3 separate regions of the Homo sapiens genome follow, and all the other regions are linked to region 2. The links come from fine-mapping of genetic effects on gene expression. A gene starts in region 2. Each other region holds a variant in brackets. All regions are shown on one strand. Distances are from middle to middle.

Region 1 (4,243 bases), 35 kb after region 2:
CTGCAAACCTCGGAGCCTATGAAGTTTGCAAGTTTTTGTGGGAGTTTTGTGCCCCTCCACTAAATGACCCCAGACTTCAATGCACAAAGTCCAGACTCTTTGTTTACTTATCTCTTTCCTCCAAGTCAGCCATCTTCTCTAGCAGGGCAGTTTTGCCTTGCCCCAGAAACAGCCTCTTCCTCCTCCTCATGTGTTAGCTGTGAAGTCATGTGATTTAGAAAAACAGATGACCAAACCTGTTAGATTTGGGTCTGGCTAGGGTGTACCATGAAGAAGCACGTCACTTTTATACGCTGCATTTGTGTTTTACATGTTGTGAATCTTTCCAAGTGGGAGGCCACAGGGGATCCTAGTTGTATTCCTTACACCCAGCCAGCACCTGGCACACAACGTGGCAGGATAAGATGCCCCAGGAATGCATGGATCAACTTGGATATATCTACTTTGTCTATCCAAATGCCTTTTTCCTTCCTTCATGGGTCTCATCACTTGTGGATGCCAGATAACTGAGTGTCAGAGTGAATAAGAACTTGCATTCTTAGGGCATGTTTATTACCCAAGCATTTTCAAATCGATGACCTCACCTGGATTCTAACACCAACCCTCAGCAGTATGCAGAAAAAGCGCAATCAGCCTCAATTTATAGATGGGTTGGCAGATTGGAAGAAGCTAATTGCCTCAGGCCACAGTGAGAGGCAGCCTCTGCAGTGTCGAGAGGTCCTGATTTCAAGGTCAGTGCCCCACTCCCATCACACGTGGCCGGGGGCTATCTGCAGAATGGGTGGTGACAGCCGGGACAGCAGGGGCTTATAATTACTCTGGAAATGTGGGATCCCAAGGGCAAGCTGAGGTGGCCGAGCCAGAGTCAAGATGTAGGGGACCAGTTAACCCTACAAGGAGTAACCTTGTAGGTGAGGCCTGTGTGAAAATGTCTACAAATGGGTGTGGGGGACAATAAGGCTTGGGAGTCAGGGCCCTGAGTACTGGTCTTGGCTTGGCCACTAGCATGCTCTTGGGCATAGCAGTTCCCCTCTCTGAGCCTGTTTTCTTGGTGATGAGAAGAGAGCACTGGCCTCACCCAGCTTCCTCACAACGTCAGAGGCAAGCAAGGCAGTTGCAAAGTCCCAGAGAGAGCGCAGGACACCATGGAATCAAGTCTGCAAGTGCGATGCCCCTTTCTGTTCTCTTTCATCCCTCCTTCTAGGAGCCCAGGGCTTTGGGACATTGGTGAGCAGCAGGATCTAGAAAACATTTAATAGCCTTATTCTCACTGAATTTGTTTTGACTTTTCCTTTCTATTTATGGCAAATGCTGATTTTTCATTTCTAGCAGGAATATCAAGACTCCTTTTAAAACAAATGAATTCAAGTAAACATAGTGAATTATTAAAAGAAAAAATTTAAGTAAATAACATTAGAGGTGGAACTACAGATATTGCAGAGATTATGAAGGTGGTTTAGAAGAGAGTGGCCTTGGAGAAACGCTGAGTGAGATGACCGCAAGGGTCCTTCTGCTCTGCAGAGTGTTGGAGAGTGGAGGTTATCAGCATGGACTCTAGATCCACATGTTGGGTTCTTTCACTTACATAGCTGGATACACGTGGGCAGGTTTCTTAATCTCTCTGTGCCTCAGTTTCCTTACCTGTAAAATGGGAATAGTAGCACACCTTCCTCAAAAGATTGCTGTGTGTTGCCCTAAGAAGAGCGCCTGGCTCAGAGAAAATGCTGTGGGAGTGTTATCTGTTATGATGACCTTCAAAGAGTCCTTAATCAGACCCAAGCCGAGGGCTTTTGGAAGAGAGTGGCGACTGGGGGGCAGTAACCATGTCTACACTCATTGGCTTACCAGAACCCGCGTGCTTGTACACACTGTTTTCTGTCCCTGAACACATAATCCCAGTGTTTCCTGCTTCTTCCTGTTGGAAAGTAAGTGAAG[C/G]CTTCCATAAATAATGGGGGAGGAGGAGAGAGGCCATCTGGCCCCAACCTCTATCCACACAGAATGAGAAAAAGTTGCCCAGGTGTTACCTGTCTTCTCATCATTTATCTGAGATCCTGCAAGAGTCAGCTGTGAGCCACATGTGCAATCATCTCCTGAGCCAAAAGGAGAGAAAGCAAAGCAGGGTTCTGAAGCCAGACCAGCCCAAATGGCAGCTCTCCCACTCACTGTCCTCTCCAGGCCCTTCCCTCCACACTTGCTCCCTGCTCTGAGTCACACTTTGTATTTCTTTGTGACAAGCCCATTTGGTTTTCTCCTCAAAGGTTGGTAATGCAGCATCTTCTGAGACACCAAAACCTGAGCAAGGTCCCAGGAAGAGGTGGCCTGACCTTGTAGGTGACCTCGTGCAGGACTTCAAGTGTGTGTGTGTGTGTGTGTGTGTGTGTGTATGTGTGTATGAATTTACAACTGGTCTACCCCAGCCCAGCTCTCCATCTGCCTGCACTCCCTGGAGCAGACAGCAGATAACCATTTAATAGATTGGCTTGAAAAGTTTATTTAAAGGGAAAATGTAATTGCATTCTATTCCAGGGAGGTGTGAAGATGTTCCAGCGGCCTGGTCATGGCATATGCACACTGTCAGAAGTCATCCTGAGGATGTTACTGCACATTGATGGGAGCCAGGGAGCCAGCTGTCATTAGAGGGATGTACAACAAGCGTCATTATGTAGATCATAATCTTACTGGACTCTTACATGTGCTATTCACAGTTGCAAACAAGACCTTGGCTCTCTTCTATCCTTGATATTTCCTTTCCCACCCCCACAAAACAATTGCAAACCAAGCCATGGTGGCAGAGTTTAATATGGCCAAAAGGCAGGATATACAGGGCTTACAAGTGTGGCTTCCAAAGTCAGTCTACCTAAGTTTCAGTCCTGGGTTTTCTATATACTAAGTAAATAATGTTAGGAAACTTACTTAAACTCTTGGTACCTCAGTTTCCTCATATATAAAATGAGGATAGTAATACCTACCTCACAGGGTTGTTGGAAAGATTGAATAAATTAACACATGTAAGCACTTTCAACAGGCACATAGCAAATACAGGATATGTGTTAGCAACTATTGTTTACTCAAAAAATTCTTACACTAGGCAAGTATCTCATACCCTAAGTTTACTAGGCCATTCTTGCATTGCTATAAAGAAAAACCTGAGACTGAGTAATTTATAAAGAAAAGAGGTTTATTGGGGCTCACATTCTGCAGTCTGTACGGGAAGCGTGGTGCTAACATCTGCTTGGCTTCTGGGGAGGCCTCAGGAAGCTTACAATCATGGTGAAAGGTGAAGGGGGAGCAGGCACATCACATGATGGAAGCAGAGCAAGAGAAAGAGAGAGGAGGTGCCACACACTTTTAAATGACTAGATCTCATAAGAACTCACTATCACAAAGACAGCACCAAGCTATGAGGGATTCACCCCCATGATCCAGATACCTCCCACCAGGCCCCATGTCCAGCACTGGGGATTACAATTCAACAAGAGTTTTAACCAGGGACAAATATCCAAACTGTATCACTTAGTAGCCAGCCTCCAATATGGCCCCCAGTGTTTCTCATCTCCTGTCATTCCTGCGCTTGCATAGTTCCTTCCACACTGAATAGGGCTACTATGCAACCAATAGCACATTGAGGAAATGATGGGGTGTGACTTCTGAGGGTAGGTTGCAAAGTCACTGCAGCTTCCACCTTGTGCTCTCTGGGATCACTTACTTTGGTTCACTTGCCAGCTGCCATGCTGTGAGGAGACTCAAGCAGCACTGTGGAGTGGCCCATGTAGGGAGGAACCGAAACTGCCTACAAATAACCAGAGTTAATTTACTATCCATGTGGCTAAGCCACCTTGAAAGTGGATCCTCCAGCCCCAGTCAAGCCTTCAGATGGCTGCAGCCCCAGTCAACATTTTGATTGCAACCTGATGACAGACCCTGAGCCAGAACCATCAAGGTAATAGCAATAGATACATTGGGCTTTGCACATTTAGAGGTGGAGGAGCAGGGCCAGAATCAGCAGGGGTGGCTTTATAAACCAGACACTCATGTGTTCACTGCCACCCACAGGTATGCAGAGAGATGCCCAAGTGTGCATCCCAGTGGGGTTCTGAGGTGTCCCAGTGGGCTGTGGGAGACAGAAAGAAATTCAAGGAAAATCCACGCCAGAGGCTTTCTGTAGTTTTGCACCTCACCCTTCCCATACCTTTTCTCCTCATCTCCCCAGGCATCCACTGTGAACAGACCTTAGGAGGGTCAA
Region 2 (4,243 bases):
TCAGTGTCTTAGGAAGATGAAGATCTGAATCCTGAACCGTGACTCACGGGAGCCTGGCTGATCTCCTTCGCTTTCACAGGACTTCTCGCTGCTATGACACATTTGCATGGTGACTCCTGGTTCTTTTCCAGGCGTCAATGTGAATGTCCATTTTCTTTTGGAGTGGCTGTCTCTTTAAACTCTTACAATACACACGGGTTTTCTTTTCTGGCTTTTCTTGTAAGGTGCTGCCTATCAAAAAAGAGACAGGAGAGAGAGAGAGAGAGAGAGAGAGAGAGAGAGAGATTGTCTTCCAAAGGTTGTTTTCTTACCCTCTGTTGCTTAAACAATCATCTTCTGTGTTATTGAGGAAAACCCAAAGCTGTCAGCTTCCCTGGACTTCAGGTTTCCAGCAAACTCACCTCCCCCCTCCCTTGGTTTCACCCCCATCTGCTTATAATTTAATGTTCTGTATGTTTTAATCATTTCATTAGGCATGTCCTTATTTTGAAATGCAACTAATTCTTCAGTTCAAACAAACAGCCAGTAATTCTAAAAATGAGACCATTCTTTTCTTTCAGTTAGAGATTGGCTTAGAAGAAATATCACACCTATTTTGAGAAGGGTGAAATAACTCAAATGCCACTAGTTTTTTTAAAACCGCTGACTTTTAAAAGTGGAAATGATCTTAGAGATTGCTTCATTTTCTCCACAGATATGGAACTAACTTTTGGGGATGTTTTCTCATGTCTTTCTGAACACTTTGTGATAAAGTCATTCCTATTAAGGTTTGTCTTAATACGGATTTGTAAAAATTATGTAATAAAATACCTCATTTCTATACTCGGTGACAATGGACATGAAAGAAAAAGTGATTCCACTATAGGACTTGTATGTTTTATTAATTTATTTTCTTTATAGGAATTTACATTCTTTAAGGCAAGGAGAATCATATTTTGCTATAAGGGGAAAGATAATTTGCAAGGTGTTTCATGTGATTTTTCCCCCTGACATTCAGATTTATTCTATATCAAGAAAAGAAGCTTCTGGGCCGGGTGCAGTGGCTCACGCCTGTAATCCCAGCACTTTGGGAGGCCAAGGTGGGCGGATCACCTGAGGTTAGGAGTTCAAGACCAGCCTGACCAACATGGAGAAACCCCGTCTCTATTAAAAACACAAAAATAGCCGGGCTTTGTGGCACATGCCTGTAATCACAGCTACTCAGGGGGCTGAGGCAGGAGAATCTCTTGAACCTGGGAGGCGGAGGTTGCAGTGAGCCAAGATCGTGCCATTGCACTCCAGCCTGGGCAAAAAGAGCGAAACTCTGTCTCAAAAAAAAAAAAAAGGAGAAGCTTCTGAAATTCCAGGAGCATACAACTTCCCCCCTTATCTATGGGGGATACATTCTTCCAAGACCCCAGTGGATGCCTGAAACTGCAATAGTACCAAACCCTACATATACTATGCATGAATTTCTTTTTTTCCTTACCATTCATGGGTAAGCTGGTCCAAGTGCAGTGGTGTTTACAACTAATTGATCACAATTCGTGGGTAGAAGTTTCCTTCTTACTGTAGATCTTAAAGATGTCAGCATACAATTTTTTTCTTTCCTTATTAAGCTGATAACTTTCACCTTTTCACTTCAAGGATGCATTTTATGGCTTCTTTTTTGGCATATGCAAATTGCCAGCATCATTACTCTCATGCTTTGAGGCCATTATATAACAAAATGAGGGTTACTTGAACACAAGCACTGGGAAACGGTGACAGTCTATGTGATAACTGAGATGGCTACCGTGTGACTGACAGGAAGGTAGCTTAGACAGTGTGGATATGCTGGACAAAGAGAAGATTCCCCTCCCAGGTGGGACAGAGGATGAGAGATTTCAGCATGCAACTGAGAATGGCATGCAATTTAAAACTTATGAATTATTTCTGAAATTTTCCATTTAATTTTTTGGGGCCACAACTGACCACAGGTAAATGAAACCACAGAAAACAAAACCTCAGCTAAGAAAGAGCTAATGTATTTAATTTTAACATTATATCAATGACCCAACTGTGCAACGTAAAATGTCTTTATTTTCTGATACTTGTATTACTTTCTGGTAATAAAACGTCCTTTCAGTATTTTAGAAGAACGAGTCACATTTCGCACATAGTAGTAGACACTTAATAGATGTTTGTTGAAACATTCGTAGATAAGTGGGTAGATACACACTGACATTTAACGATGTGCCTTAATTCAGCTTTAAGTGCTAATGTTTATTAACGGTGATGCGTAAATACAACAGCACACATTCTGATTTAGGCTCGTCCACTGAAAATGTCCCCCTACTTCCAAAACGTAAACCGGTACCATTTAAGGATCGAAATGAAAACAACGTAATAGTGAAGTTGTCTTGGAGGAATTGCTGGAGGACGCCTTTGATACCTTTATGGAGAATGAATGGGAAGCCTTTGCGTGTGGCTGACACAAATGGTTGTCACACGCCATCTAGTGGCCATCCGTGAAACTGTGCATATGCCGTGGGAAACGCTTTTGGAACAAGTTGGATTGCTCCGAATTTCAGTGCCTATCGGGCAGCCAGTGAACATTTGTCCATCTTTAAGGCATTAAACTGAGAAGAACCACTGAGGAAAGCATGCCACAGTCTTTCCCAAAATCCCTGTGTCTTAAGGAACAACCAAGAAGTTAACTGGTCAGGGAAAAGATTTCTTTTGGAACACAGGTAAGCAAAACCAAGACGCCATCGGAGACACCCTTGCCTGCAACGGTTGTGGTATAAAGCAAGGTAAGTAGCGTGATATTCACTGCTTTTTGTCCCACAGAAGCCATCGCTGTGTGCGGAAATCCATGACCTGGCCATGACTTCTACAACCCGGAGGACTTGCCTGGCATTACCGAAAAGCACAGGGGAAAGATTCTGTGGCAGGTGCCGCATTTCATCCAGCTCACTCCGTGCTAGTTCCTAAGACATCTTAATTCTTACACATATGCATAATCGTGATATTTTGCCATGAATAACAATATATTTCACAATTATCAACCATTTTAATTTTTAGCTTTCTAACCTCGGACTACTATAATAAAAAGAAATAATAAATCCAAAAGTAGTAGTGGAAAAAATAAGTATCTCCAGGTTTGTTCCTGTAAAGTTAATTAGTTCAAAACAGAGTGAGGACTCTAAGAGTTTGGGGTTTTTTTGTGTGTGTGTGTTAAGTATCAGCATTAAGTATCTTCAAGACAATTCAAAGTAAGATGATAAGTCACTAGGTTGTAAATTTCACAAAAAATCATTAAATACACTGTGTCGGACTACAGCGGAACAGTGGGAAGAACATTCAGTATTTGAGAGTAAACAACTCAAATTAAGTTGTTTAGGAATCTCACAGACAGGAAAATTTTTCCTCTCTGGTTTTCCATGGTAGCATGTTTACAGTACTTGAAAAATGTTGCTTTCAAGTCATGTTAACTGCTTCTTAAGACCATCAAATAAGAAATGATATAGCTTATTAGTTCCAAAATAGAAAATCCTATAACATCATTTCCTCTTCATGTTAAGGTTAACTTCCATTATAAATATATGCTTTCAGTATAAAATGCTCGACCTCAAAAGATACCAGCTTTTGCGTTTTGAACTATAATCGTGATCCATAAATGGTGATAGAGCTTCAGCTACATCTCAAACATTTATGTTCCACTCTCTTTATCAAAGAGCGATTTATTTTCAGAGAAACATTTATCAATTTAAGGTGTCTGAAATATTCATTTTTTAAAAAGGGCTATAAACAAGTAGCAAGATGAATAATCTGGTTTTCTGTGGGTTAAGTTACATATCAAAAAATCCTAAAATTTTTCATCATTTTGATGCACTATTCTTAATTTTTAAAAACTCATTGTCTGAAAGCAAGACAGATATTTTAATGCTAATATGTAAAAATAAACCGGATTTACGGTCTTGGGTCTCTGTCGTTGCCTATATATCTAGATGTCTACAAAAATATTCCAGATTTTCTGCTTTTCTTAATCTCAAATGTTCAAAATGACTACATTTTCTAGAATATTTACCTATTAGCTGATGTTATTGTTAAAAAGAAAATCAGACTAATTTTGGCAGTATTGTGCCTTACTACAAATCCTGTCTTTACTGTGAGAGTGGAGAAAAATAAAATTTGCAGAATTCCAGTCTCTAGCCATTGGCATTTTCCGGGCTTTCTTGTTTTCTATATATTGAGTCCCCTGTGCGTATGGGAAGCTCAG
Region 3 (4,243 bases), 43 kb after region 2:
GGTAATCTGTGCTCATGCAGGGTAATCTGCTATTGGTTAGATATAAGATTGGATAAGGGGTTGAATAATTGCAAAAATATCAGTTAATTCATCAACAAATACCTACCAAAAGCACCTGCAGGTTGGGAGGCCCTAAGCCAAATGCTGCAGGCAGGGAAGGGCTAACCTGCAAGGAGGCTGCAGTACCGGAGGAGACACATGCAAATAGCTCTAAGCCTAGTGCTCATTTCTAGCTATAGAATAGACTCTGGAAGACTATGATTAACTTTTATTTTTCTACTTCTCTCTGCCTCGTGCTCCACCATATGTACACAGTAAGTCCTCGCTTCACATTGTCAATAGGTTGTTGGAAACTGCAACTTTAAGGAAAACTATATAGAGTAGATCTTCAAATAACATTGTTTCTTGTTTTTATTGTAATGTTGGTGAGAAAAAAATGGTTTTGTTATATGTTGTTTCACTTGAAGTTTTCATTTTCAAGAATCTATTGATGATGTTAAATGAGTATTTACTGTAATTACACACACACACTGTACCCACCACACACACTGCACCCACCACACACACACTGCACACACACACCACACACACTGCACACACTGCACACACACACCACACACACTGAACACACACACCACACACCACACACACCACACACACCACACACCACACACACTGAACACACACACCACACACCACACACACCACACACACCACACACCACACACACCACACACCAAACACACACCACACACTACACACCACACACACTACACACACCATGCACACACACACCGTACACCACACACACAACCACCCCCCCCACACACCACATATCACACACACCACACACCACACACACTGTATACCACACACCACACCACACATACACCACACACCATACACACTGTACACCACACATACACACACACACCACATACACCACACACCACACCACACACACAGCAGACACACTGTACACCACACACACCCCAAACACACCACACACACACACCACACACCGCGCACACCACACCACACCACACACACACACGCACACACACACACGGAGCAAGATTGTCATTGAAGAGTCTAGCATCCAGTTCAGGGTTCTTGACCTAGAGTTTTGGGAATAACTCCCCAAACTCCAAGGCTTTCTGGTCTTCCTTAAATTGTATATAAGTTTTTGTGCATTTTATTTTTAAAGAGAGACTATACATTTTTTTTTCAGATTCTTAAAGGAATCCCTGATTCCCAAATGCTTGACCATATGCAGTGGGTGACTTGGGACCCACGTCCTTGATCCGTGGTACCAGAACAGCTAGGGACTGTTTTAACCCCAATGTGACAGGCAACAAAACTCACATAAATCATACAAGGGGGGCGACAGGAGGAAAACCCTTTCTTTGACAGTAATTTCTGACCACCAATCAAAGTTTGCTTGTCTTACATCAAATCTTGGGTATTCAAACTCGAATTTGCAGACCTCTAGTCGGCTTCAGTCATCAGGGTTGAAAATTTCTGCAATATGGTGGAGAAAGCATGACCTTGGAATCTGAAGAGTCTGCGGTCTGATCCTAGCACCCC[A/C]GCCCCCAACCATGTGCTATTCTGTAACTTAACCTCTGTTGCTCCCCTTCTCCCTGACATCTCAGCCTCTCAGCTCACCTGTCTATAAAACAGGATAAAAATACCTACCTCACAGACTTATTGCAAACACTAAAGCAATTAGATACTTTAAACGTCTAGGCCGGTCACGGTGGCTCATGCCTGTAATCTTAGCACTTTGGGAGGCTGAGGCGGGTAGATCACCTGAGGTCAGGAGTTCAAGACCACCCTGGCCAACACCATGAAACCCCGTCTCTACTAAAAATACAAAATTAGCTGGGCATGGTGGCACATGCCTGTAATCCCAGCTACTTGGGAGGCTGAGGCAGGAGAATCGCCTCAACCAGGAGGCGGAAGTTGCAGTGAGTCGAGATCCTGCCATTGCATTCCAGCCTGGGCGACAGAGTGAGACTCTGTTTCAAAAAAGAAAAAAAGAATGTCTAGAACAGCACTTGGTAGGTGCTTAGACTGCCTTGCACATAGTAGGTATTCAGCAGATATTTGTTCCGGTTTCTCTATCCCCACCCAGTCCCCTTTGTTTTTTCATATATGTGGCACCTAGAGAGAATACTTTGTAATTCATTCCCAAGGTTGTTTTCCTTCCCTTGTTTTTTCTGAAAAAAACAAAAAACAAAAAAACAAAAAAAAACCCACCTCAGGATTGATAAAAGCAAAGAGTTGCTCAATGGCAAATCTGTCACGTACCTCTTTATTTCTCTGGCTTTTGGATAAAGCAAGAAGAGGCAACTACAGAAAAAAATGCAGAATAAAACTGCCCTGGTGTTTCATGCAGGGAAAAAAACCGCCCTGGTGTTTCATGAGTTGTCGTTGTGTGAGGTTTGGCTAATTCAGCAAGACCCCTTTGTTTTTGTTTTTAAACTATCGTATTAAAGCATATTTATTCAAAGGAGCGCAATCGCACTCAGAGACCCAATTAGCTTGGGAGGTTTATTCAATTTTGTGGCTCAACCATCTTACAAGTTTCTCTTTTGGAAGTGGCTTTGAAGCCAGCCTGTGAGTTAAGCACTACCATTAACAGTCACACTTCAAACTCACCTGTGTGCGGACTTGGATGGTGTAGTAATCCCTTCAGTGACACTTTGGACACACATTTACAGAGCACTGCCTTGGCACCCTGCCTCCAACCAGGTGCTGGAGACACAGCCATGAACAAAACAGAGGTGCAGTCCTGCCTTCATGGAGCTTGCAGCCCAGTGGAGGAGACATAGTGCAAGGACTCACAGCAGAACATGCTAAGCTTTGTGATAGAGGAGGTACAGGCCCACGTGGTGCATAGGAGAGGGGCACCCTGTCAGGATAGAGAGAGTCAGGGAAGGCTTCCTGGGGGAAGGGACATCTAATGTGAGGCCTAAAGGTTGAGTTGGAGTTAGCTAAATCCTGTGATTCCTGGACCTCTCATTAAGAAGGAGAGTAAAGAGATGCTCAGCAGGCAATGGGATAGCAGGGTCTGAGCTCAGAAGAGTGAGATCTGGGCTGAAGGCAGTGAGTTGGGCATTGTATTAGTCCATTTTCACATTGCTATAAAAAGCTTCCCAAAACTGGGTAATTTATAAAGGAAAGAGGTTTGACTCACAGTTCTGCATGGCTGGGGAGGCCTCAGGAAACCTACAATCATGGCAGAAGGCAAAGGGGGAGCGAGAACCTTCTTCGCATGGCAGTAGGAGAGGGAAGACTGAGTGTAGGAGGAACTTGCCACATACTTGTAAAACCATCAGATCTCATCAGAACTCACTTACTATCATGAGAACAGCACGGAGGAAACTGCCCCCATGATCCAATCACCTCTCACCAGGATCCTCCCTCAATACCTGGAGATTGTAATTCAAGATGAGATTTGGGTGGGGACACAAAGCCAAACCATATCAGACATCCAAGCACAGAATAGGTAAACTAGGAAAACCTCTCTGGGAAGGAAGCCTTTCCCAAGAGAGACTCACACCCTGGATCTCCCTAACCCACAGGGGCAGCCCTTACGGTCTGGAGGCTGGGGCTGCTCTCTCCAAGGCTGGTGGGCAGACTCTTGACCCAGAAAGCTGCTGTTGTCCCTCAACTGCCTTCCCCCCCATCCAGAGGGGATCTGGTTCTCCCAACCCATTCCATGTAGTGTCCCAGGAAGTGCATCCAAGAGCTTTGAGGCCAGAGGACAGAGCCATTCTAAGTGGCCCACAGCCTTGGCATCGGCCCAGGGAGCCCCAGTGAGAATCAGGGTCACCTGCAGACACCTGCACAGTCATCTTTGCACCATGCTGTACTTTCTGGGGTTTCAGGTCCATGACATGATGCTATCTTCTGGGTCACAGGCAAGCAAACACCATGAAGTCAGAGGTACACACAGCTCTCGGGCCTAAGTGGAGGGAAGTACATGCCCTCGCTGTAACAACACGCACTGAGCAGAGTCAGCTCTGACCAGGTTCTAGAAACCTTTGCAATCTTGAGATCCTATTCCTACTCTTTAACAGGAAGCATGCTTGTAAAGAGCTTTTGTCTTGGGGGGAAAGAGGAACAGCCCTCCACACGCCTCCCGACATTCCAAGGTTGGAGAATTAGCCTCCCACAGCTGCTGTCGCAGGAAGCGGGTCGGCCATATCCATGTGTAAACAAAGGCAGCGAGACCCCT

Direction of the effects. Alleles are on the strand shown, and positions count from the first base shown. SD is a standard deviation of normalised expression in the study named.
With allele C in place of G in region 1, the expression in prefrontal cortex of the gene that starts at base 2,534 in region 2 is lower (moderate effect, 0.47 SD a copy in ROSMAP).
In carriers of allele A in region 3, the expression in hippocampus of the gene that starts at base 2,534 in region 2 tends to be lower than with C alone (moderate effect, 0.41 SD a copy in GTEx).

Evidence for each region. PIP is the estimated chance that this variant, and not a neighbour inherited with it, causes the effect. A credible set is the group of variants that fine-mapping cannot tell apart.
Region 1: its variant is the best candidate, but not a certain one, in a credible set for the expression of LINC02944 in prefrontal cortex (ROSMAP, PIP 0.76).
Region 3: its variant is the best candidate, but not a certain one, in a credible set for the expression of LINC02944 in hippocampus (GTEx, PIP 0.69).

Annotation. Positions count from the first base shown.
Region 1 is chr10:118,274,311-118,278,553 of GRCh38, forward strand. No RefSeq gene overlaps it. Among named protein-coding and RNA genes, the nearest start is that of LINC02944, 35 kb to the left of the region's middle. The variant C/G (reference allele first, on the strand shown) is at 1,936.
Region 2 is chr10:118,238,972-118,243,214 of GRCh38, forward strand. LINC02944 (long intergenic non-protein coding RNA 2944) reads left to right here and starts at 2,534. Exons shown (of 5, transcript XR_946349.3): 1 at 2,534-2,711; 2 at 2,812-2,915.
Region 3 is chr10:118,282,081-118,286,323 of GRCh38, forward strand. No RefSeq gene overlaps it. Among named protein-coding and RNA genes, the nearest start is that of LINC02944, 43 kb to the left of the region's middle. RefSeq lists enhancers at 3,319-3,820, 3,821-4,243. The variant A/C (reference allele first, on the strand shown) is at 1,588.